Linked DNA regions of Homo sapiens: regions 2 and 3 are each linked to region 1. The links come from fine-mapping of genetic effects on gene expression. A gene starts in region 1. Each other region holds a variant in brackets. All regions are shown on one strand. Distances are between the middles of the regions. Region 1 holds the start of LINC00469 (long intergenic non-protein coding RNA 469). Region 2 has its middle 57 kb from the start of LINC02092. Region 3 overlaps LINC00469 (long intergenic non-protein coding RNA 469).

What was found. PIP is the estimated chance that this variant, and not a neighbour inherited with it, causes the effect. A credible set is the group of variants that fine-mapping cannot tell apart.
Region 2: its variant is the best candidate, but not a certain one, in a credible set for the expression of LINC00469 in whole blood (INTERVAL, PIP 0.73).
Region 3: its variant is the best candidate, but not a certain one, in a credible set for the expression of LINC00469 in lung (TOPMed, PIP 0.82).

The regions. Positions count from the first base shown.
Region 1 is chr17:73,826,920-73,829,681 of GRCh38, forward strand. It overlaps LINC00469 (long intergenic non-protein coding RNA 469), which reads right to left and starts at 1,618. Exons shown (of 4, transcript NR_027146.1): 1 at 1,529-1,618. RefSeq lists enhancers at 955-1,464, 2,455-2,762.
Region 2 is chr17:73,728,311-73,731,072 of GRCh38, forward strand. No RefSeq gene overlaps it. Among named protein-coding and RNA genes, the nearest start is that of LINC02092, 57 kb to the right of the region's middle. The variant C/T (reference allele first, on the strand shown) is at 1,183.
Region 3 is chr17:73,775,886-73,778,647 of GRCh38, forward strand. The region is part of intron 2 of LINC00469 (long intergenic non-protein coding RNA 469); the gene reads right to left. Among named protein-coding and RNA genes, the nearest start is that of LINC02092, 9.6 kb to the right of the region's middle. The variant C/A (reference allele first, on the strand shown) is at 1,529.

The DNA of each region.
Region 1 (2,762 bases):
ATGGAGACCCCAGCCCCAGGCCCTTGAGCTCAACCCAGCACCAGCCCCCAGACCTGTTCACTCTTTGGCCTTCCAGGGCCAGCCCCAGGCTGGGCTGTCACTGATGTGGGTGAGCAGGAGTGGTCCCCGTTCCTCACAGGGGCTTCTCTCTATGCACACCTCACATCATCCCCCGACCTCCAGGCATAAACCAGCCTTGCAGCCCTGACTCCAGACCTGTCCAGAGAAAGTGCCACCTGCCTGGGGAGCTGATGCAGATGAGAGGGAAGGAGAGAGAGACAGTGTCCCCTGCACCATGCCCTGAACTTCCCAAGGGACCTTCATCAAGCTCCCCTGGGGGCTGTATTGTTAAAATGCACAGATTCTTGGACCTCGACTCTGGACTTCCAGAAGCGAAATCTCTGCGGGGGTGGAGGAATTGGGCACTGATTCTAATGAAGTCCCCAGGGCAATCTCACCTGCTTTAGAGCAGAGGTTGGTACCCTGGCTGCACATCAGAGTCTCATGGGAAATCTAAACACATCCGTTCCAGGGCCTCACCCCCAGACCAAGCAGACCAGTGTCAGGGCTGGACATCAGGCATTCGTATTTTGTAAAAAATGATTAAAATGTGCACCCAGGGTTGAGAACTGCTTCAGAATTTGCAGACCTCCAGCTGGGTCTGACCCAGGAAAACAGGAAACAAGAGAGATGGTGTCAGCTGGGGCCCTTCACTGGTGGGGCCAGGTGGGTGGGGGGAACATCCCCACGATCCAGGCGACCCCCACCGCTGGCCAGGCAACCTCATGGCTGAAGGCGAGGAGGGACGCAGGCACGAGGGCCTTGGCGTAAGGAAGCTGGCTCTGCAGTCAGGCCCTGCCCTGGGGCTGTTCAGATGCCCAGGAGGGCAGGTTTATGCGAATGAAGCAATTACAGAACCATTTAAAAGAGTGAGGGAACTTGGTCCAGAAATGCCTGTGGAGCTTTCAAAAGGGGTGAGTGACCTCATCCAGCCAAGAAAGGGTCTGGGAGAGAAGCTGGAGGCCGAGGTCTTCAGTCTAGGCTAGGGGAGGGGAGAGAACGTTTAAGAGGGTGGCAGGCATTCCTGTCCCAAGTCACCAACTGGGTAGCGCTCTTGTTTGTCTTATGCAAGAGTGTTTAGATAAGAACAGGCTTTTGCATTTCAAAAAGGAGCCTGTTCTTCCTCGCCTTGCTTCTTCCTGTGCTGAGTAAACGGAAGGCACACCCTTGTTTCCCTCCCTATTCACAGCTCCTCTGTCCGCCACAAAGACAACCTCCTCCCCTTCTGCCCTCGTCTTCTGCCTGTGGACATTCAAGGGACCCCGCTCCTCCTTCATCCTTTCTCTCCTGCACGAATGAATCGTTTCCCGTGAATCTGCTCTTTGAAAAACCCCTTCCTAACTTCCATCTCTCTTCCTCTGCTCTCTTTGATGCCATCGCTTCTTAAAAGGGAGGCCTAGACTCACTGCTGTCTCACTTTTGTACGTTTATTTTCATCATGGTAAAATATACATAGCATAATATTTACCATTTGAGCCCTTTTAAGGTGTACAATTCAGTGGCATTTACATTCAAAACATTGTGCAACCATCCTGATGATCTATTTCCAGAGCTTTTTTTTTTTTTTTTAAATCATCCCAAACAAATTCTGGAACTGTGAGATAATAATGTCCCATTCTTTTCTCCTCCCAGTTCCTGGTAACCTCCATTCTTTCTGTCTCTATGAATTTGCCTATTGTAGAAACCTCGTGTAAGTGACATCATTCCATATGGGGCCTTTGTGTCTGGCTTATTTCACCTAACATCATGTTGCAGCAAGGTTCATTTCATTTCTTTTTATGGCTGAATAATATTCCCTCGTACAGATGGACAGCAGGTGTTGACCTATTCATCGGTTGTCTATTCGGCCTCCACAATCCACTGTTTTCATCCCTTCTTGCTGTCTCTACTTCTATGACCCTGGCCTAAGTCACCATTTTCTTCCACCAGAGTGCTCAGTGGCCTCCTCTGAGATTTCACTCTTTTTTTTTTCTTTTAAACAGCGTTATTGAAATGTAATTCATATATTATGTAATTCTCCCATTTAAAGTGGACAATTCAGGCTACTCTGCCTATGGAGTGGCCATGCTTTTGTTTCTTTACTTCTCTAATAAGCTTGCTTTCACTTAAAAAAAAAAAGTATACAATTCAATGGTTGCTAGTATATTCCATGTAGCTGCAATCGTCACCGTGGTCCATTTTACAGCATTTGTATCACCTCAAAAAGAAGCTCTGACCCTTCAGCTATCTCCCCTCCCCAACGCTCACCCTTACAGCCCTAGGCAACTAGTAATCTACTTTCTGTCTCTAGAGATTTGCCTCTTCTGGGCATTTTGTCTAAATGGAATCATACAATCCGTGGTCTTTTGTGAATGGCTTCCTTCACTTATCGTGATGGTTCCCGGGTTCATTCATGCTGTCCTATCGGCACTTCATTCCTTTCTATGGCCAAATAACTACCTCATTGTATGGATTCATTGGTGGACATTTATGTCGTTTCTATCTTTGGGCTATTACAAATAATGCTGCTTTAAACATTTTGTACAGGTTTCTGTATGAATATATGTTTTCGTTTCTCGTGGGTCTATACAGAGGAGTGGAACTGTGGGTCACACGGTAACTCTGTGTAATCGTTTGAGGACCTGCAGGCCACAGTGGCTGTCCTGCCTCCTCTCTTGCCTCTTTCAAAACTCCTCTTCACAGAGCAGCTGATGCGATCTTTC
Region 2 (2,762 bases), 99 kb before region 1:
CCGGGTGGAAGGAAGTTGGACTGTTTGCCTGCTGGGGAAGGAAGGGACACTGCAGTGCCCTGCTGCTGAAAGTGGGGTCCATGGGCCAGCAGAACTGTCACCACCTGGAAACCCTGTAGGAAATGCAGAACCTCAGACCGACCCCAGATTTAGGGTATCAGATACCTGCTTTTTCAAAAAATTATTATGAGATAGGGTCTGGCTCTGTCGCCTAGGCTGGAGTGCAGCAGCGTGATCTCGGCTCACTGCAACGTCCACGTCCTGGGCTCAAGCGATTCTCCTGCCTCAGCCTCCTGAGTAGCTGAGACTACAGGTGCATGCCACCATGCCCAGCTAATTTTTTGGATTTTTAGTAGAGACAGGGTCTCACCATGTTGCCCAGGCTGGTGTCAAACTCCTGGCCTCAAGCGATCCTCCATCCTCAGCTTCCCAAAGTTCTGGGATTACAGGCGCAAGCCATCAGGCCTGGCCAGAGTCTGCCTTTTTCTTTTCTTAATTTAATTTTTTTTTGAGATGTATCACTCTGTCACCCAGGCTGGAGTACAGTGGTGCAATCTCAGCTCACCACAACCTCCAATTCTTGGGTTCAAGGGATTCTCCTGCCTCAGCATCCTGAGTAGCTGGGATTACAGGTGTGCACCATCACATCTGGCTAATTCTTTTTGTATTTTTTAATAAGATGACTTACATGCACTGAAATGCTTGAGAAGCACAGTGTTAGTTATCGACCCCAGGGAAGGTTTCAGTTACCCCCATCATACTGAGCTTCTACTGGAGTTCCAACAACTAAGAGAAAGAGCCTCTGACACAAGTCAGCGGGCGAAGCTCTAGACTTCATTTCTAGCACTGTGCTGCCCAATATGGCAGCCATGGGCCATGTGTGGCTATTAAGGTCAAAGGTATAGTAATGGAGATGAAGTACAGTGACACATTTCAGTGCTTCGGTCACACAAGTCGCATTTCAAGTGCTCAGTAGTCACACGTGGTTTGTGGCTGGTATATTGGGCAGCACTGATTACTGAACAATTCCCTTATCACAGAAAATTCTATTGAGCAGTGTTGGTTTAGTGTCTGACAGTGTAGTCATGTGCAGAGAATGACCCAACCCCAGCTTTCCCTGAATGGCGGCTTCTCTCTTTGGTGGCAGGGGCATGGGGGTGTAGGTGGTGGATGGGCAAGTGA[C/T]AGATGTGTGGAAACTCAAAAGTGTGTGATTTGGGTGGGGAAGGGCACTGCAGCCCCAGAAAACAGCTGCATGAGTGAGAACATCTGGTGAAAATCAAGGCTTGAGTTAGTTCATGTGAGACGCACTGGAAGGATGTTAGAGATCACTTAGCTCAAATCTCCCCGTCCCCTTCCTATCACCCATTTAATAAACCAAGACCTAGAAGTCTAAAGAAAAGTGCAGTGGCTAGACTTGAAGTTGGGTTTTGCACTTCAAGACCAGTGTTTGATGTATTCTGCTTGTGGGACAGTGAGACAAACTCTTTGCCTGCAAAGAAGATTTCATGAGGCGAGTAAGAGGTGCTCGAGAAGACATCACATGAGAGAGGGCCATTCAGGAACCCAAGAATTTGCCTATAGACTTGGGGGAAGATGGCCAGAGAAATCTGGGGGAGGCACTGGGAAAGAACATTTCATGGTGGGGGCAGAAGGGGTGGGCAGCAGGGGGAAGGAGGACCTAGGCTGGGAAGGGCCCAGCTCCATCCCTGACCATTCGTCTATTATATGACACCTGCATGGGGCAGAAGCCAGGGAATGTTTCACAGATATGCCTGGTCTCTTCCGCTTTGGTCTGCATTTCTGTGCCTCCCTACCCTCCCCCAGTTAGGTGGGTCCAGGAGACTGAACTCTGACCCATGGAATCTGGGCAGAAGGGTTGCTGCAATTTCCAGGGCTGGGCCCTAAAAGGCTCTCTCTGCCTTCTCTGGTAGCCCACCCAGATGCAGTTGATGCAGTGGAGGACTCTCCAGCCCTAGAAGACTACCGAGATACTAGAAAGGAGGTGCCTTGTCCCCAAAAGACTGGGAGGAGTGGAACATCCCAGCTAGCTCACTTTAGGCTATTACTGCAAGAAATTAAACCTGTATAGTGTTAAACCATAGTACATTTGGGAGATGTTTGTTATAGCAGCTGGTCTACCCTGGCTAATACACTGCATGAAGGGTGCGCTCTAAAATTTCCATCTCTTCACCATGTCCCATAGCATTTGCAAGATGTTTGTAGGTCACTGAAGAGGCCATTCTTTTCTCTTCCCTCCCTCTGTTTCTCTGTTCTCACTTCTTCCTGTCTAGGAGTTCTGTAGTCATCTCTAATTGGCCCTTCAGGTTCCCCAATCCAGAAGCAGTTCCTATGAAGGCAGCCCCAGGTTATTGCCATATTCATGGAGTTATCAGGGTTATGGCAGGTCCTAGGACAGAGGAAGTCCCTGCCCATCACTTCCTCCAGGAAGCCTTCCCTGCATGTTTGGGTTAGGAACCATCCTGTGCATTCCCATAGAATATAGTCAATGATGCCCACATTCTTTGTGGCCTGCTGTACCGTAACATATACGCTCAGTACACAATTGTGGTTTACTTATCTCTCTTGTCACTCCACTGTGGGATCCTAGAGAACTCCATCACTTCTACTGTGAAGCAGCAAGAGCTAGACATGTAGATACCCACTGTGGAAGGCAGCTTCTGATATGGCCTCCAAAGAAGCACCCTCCTGAGATTCATGTCCTTGTGTCATCCTCTCTCCTCCAGTGTGAGCCAGACCCACTG
Region 3 (2,762 bases), 51 kb before region 1:
TACATGACAGCGCTTAGCACAGGCCTGGCCTGAAGTAAACTGGATATAGATATTTGTTCACAGATTGACAAACAGAAAGCCTTACAAGATGCCCTTCCCAGGCGCAAACCCACGTCACCCTCACAAGCAGAAACAGGGAATAGTAAGGATGAGGGACAGATGGTCGCTAGGAAACTGCAGCCTTCCTCCGATCCCTAACCCCAGGGGTAAAAACAGAATGATCGTGAAGGCAGGGAGCGGGGACAGGTGGTCCTGGGCAGCGTGGCTTATGCCCTGCCCATGGAGATGCCTGTGTTGGAGATGGTTGCTTACCCAGGTTTCACACGCCGGACATCAGCACCTTGGCTCAAATTGTTGAAAACAGTCCCCTTCGGTCTATCAGCGCCATCAGAGACATGTTGGACGTGACACCTTTGTGAGCTTTGTACACCTCAATATTCATCAAATGAAGGCCCGAAGAAATGGATGTCAGTATTAGCAAGATTCTTTCGCCCAGAGCTTCGTGGCGTTGGTATCTCCTTGGCTGGTCTTGCCTCCCAGCTGCATGCTCTGTAAATGTTTGTAGTGAGCGTGAGACACTACAGCTCTCTGTCTCTCTGCCTTAAGCCCACTCTATTTTTATACTATTTGGTATTATCTTTGCTGGCTGTTTTTTCTCTGCCACAATCAGAATTCTTGGGGCTCGGTGCCGACGGGAGGGGTTTTAAGTGTCTTTGGCAGGAAGAATTTCTTCTGTCTGTAGTTCAATCTGAAGTTCATTCACATTCTCCTTGCAAAGAATGGCGGATGCAGTGAGAGTTGCCGTAAAAGCGATGAAAAAGTCATCGGCAATCCTTACCACATCCGTACATCGGCAGCTCGGAGGCTTGACTGCTGGAGCGAGATGTGGCCCAAGACGCCCCGGTGGAGGCTAGGGTCCTCATGGTGCCATTTGCCCCAACTCCCAGGAGGGGCAGGGAGACGATTTCCTCTCAACTTCCCAGGCGGCTTTAGGATGTCAACTTGGGTCTTGGCCTGGAGCCCTTTGGATTCTTTCATGTTTTTCTTGACTTGCTAAGTGTGCTTTCCATCAGTTGGATACGGAATGCATCAAAACAATCATTATTATTTCAACCACAGCCTCCTCTGAAAGCGCTTTTTCTTGGATATAACACCTCTGTCTCAAGGCAGTTATTGCCATTCCAATGTGTTATGCTGTGATTTCATCCTCAGAGGGAGCTGCCACACTCAGAAAGCAAACAGACTCTTCCCACATCTCGGCATAGAGCAACCCTGTCCTTCCAGTTTGTTCTTCGGGCCACACATCTATGAGCCAGGACAGATGCATCTCTTTCTCCCACACTCCACATTCCATCCATTGGGAAATGCTGCCGGCTCTGCTTCAAACTGCCCAGAATCCCACATCATTCTTCCCCATTTCAAGTGCTTTTCTCCGGCTCCAGCTGGGACTCCTGCCCCATCCTGACCCTGGCAGCCCATGCTCAGCATGGCAGCCAGGGTGAGCCACTCACAGCTCAAACCGTTCAGA[C/A]CTCCTCCTTTTCCCAGAACGAGAATTGGGTCTTCGCCATGGCCTCAGGGCCCCTTGCAATGTGGCCTGAGTGACCGCTCTGACCACCCCTTCCCCAGCTGCCCGCCCTACCCACCCCACAGCAGCCCCACTGGCTGCCTTGCCCTATGATCAAATAACCCAGGCAGTCCCCTGCCTCGGGACCTTTGCACTGGCTGTTCCTTCTGCCTGGAAGGCTTGTCCCACAGAGACCTGCATGGCTGATGGCTGACTCCATTACTGCCTTGAGATTCTTATTTCAAGGCATAAGGCAGCATTGTGCAGAGGATAAGAGCACAGACTGGAGCCCCACTGCCTGGCCTCAAGGGCCTTTGCTGACATTTACTGACCACCTGACACTGCAAATGGTATTTCACCTCTCCCTACCTCAGTTTTCTTCTCTGTAAAATGGGGAAATAATCACATTAATTCATACTGTTATAATGAGGATTCAATGATTTAATATTTGTAAAGGACTTATAGCCAGAATGAATGTGAAATAAGCGACTACCAAAGGAATAAATCAAATGAGCTGACATCAGGCACCCTATTTAAACATGCTGGCCAGGGCCAGGCGTGGTGGCTCATGCCTGTAATCCCAGCACTTTGGGAGGCCAAGGTGGGTGGATCACTCGAGGTCAGGAGTTCGAGACCATCCTGGCCAACATGGTGAAACCTCGTCTCTACTAAAAATACAAATATTAGCTGGGCTTGGTGGCACATGCCTGTAGTCCCAGCTACTTGGGAGGTTGAGGCAGCAGAATCGCTTGGGCCCGGGAGGCAGAGGTTGCAGTGAACTGGGATGGCACCACTGCACTCCAGCCTGGGTGATAGAGCGAGACTCTGTCTCAAAAAGAAAAGAAAAGAAAAGAAAGACAAACATGCCACTGGCTTCTCACCTCCATCCTACACTCCCAGTCTTTCTCCTCTCCTGTGCTTTTGCTTGTATTTCATTGTATGTATCCCTTCTTACTACATAATTTACTTATTTCTTTTGGTTGCTATTTACTGTCTCCCCCAACCAGAATTGCTAGAATACAAGCTCCATGAGGACAGAAATCTGTGTTTTGCTCACTATGGTACCTACATGCTTACACAGTACTTGGCCTGTAAGAGTCGTTTAGCAAGTTTATACCCCCTCACCTACACATTAGAACTTTTCGGTTAAAAAGTATGTGTTTTTTTATTATATAAGGAAAATATGTAGAAAAGTTCC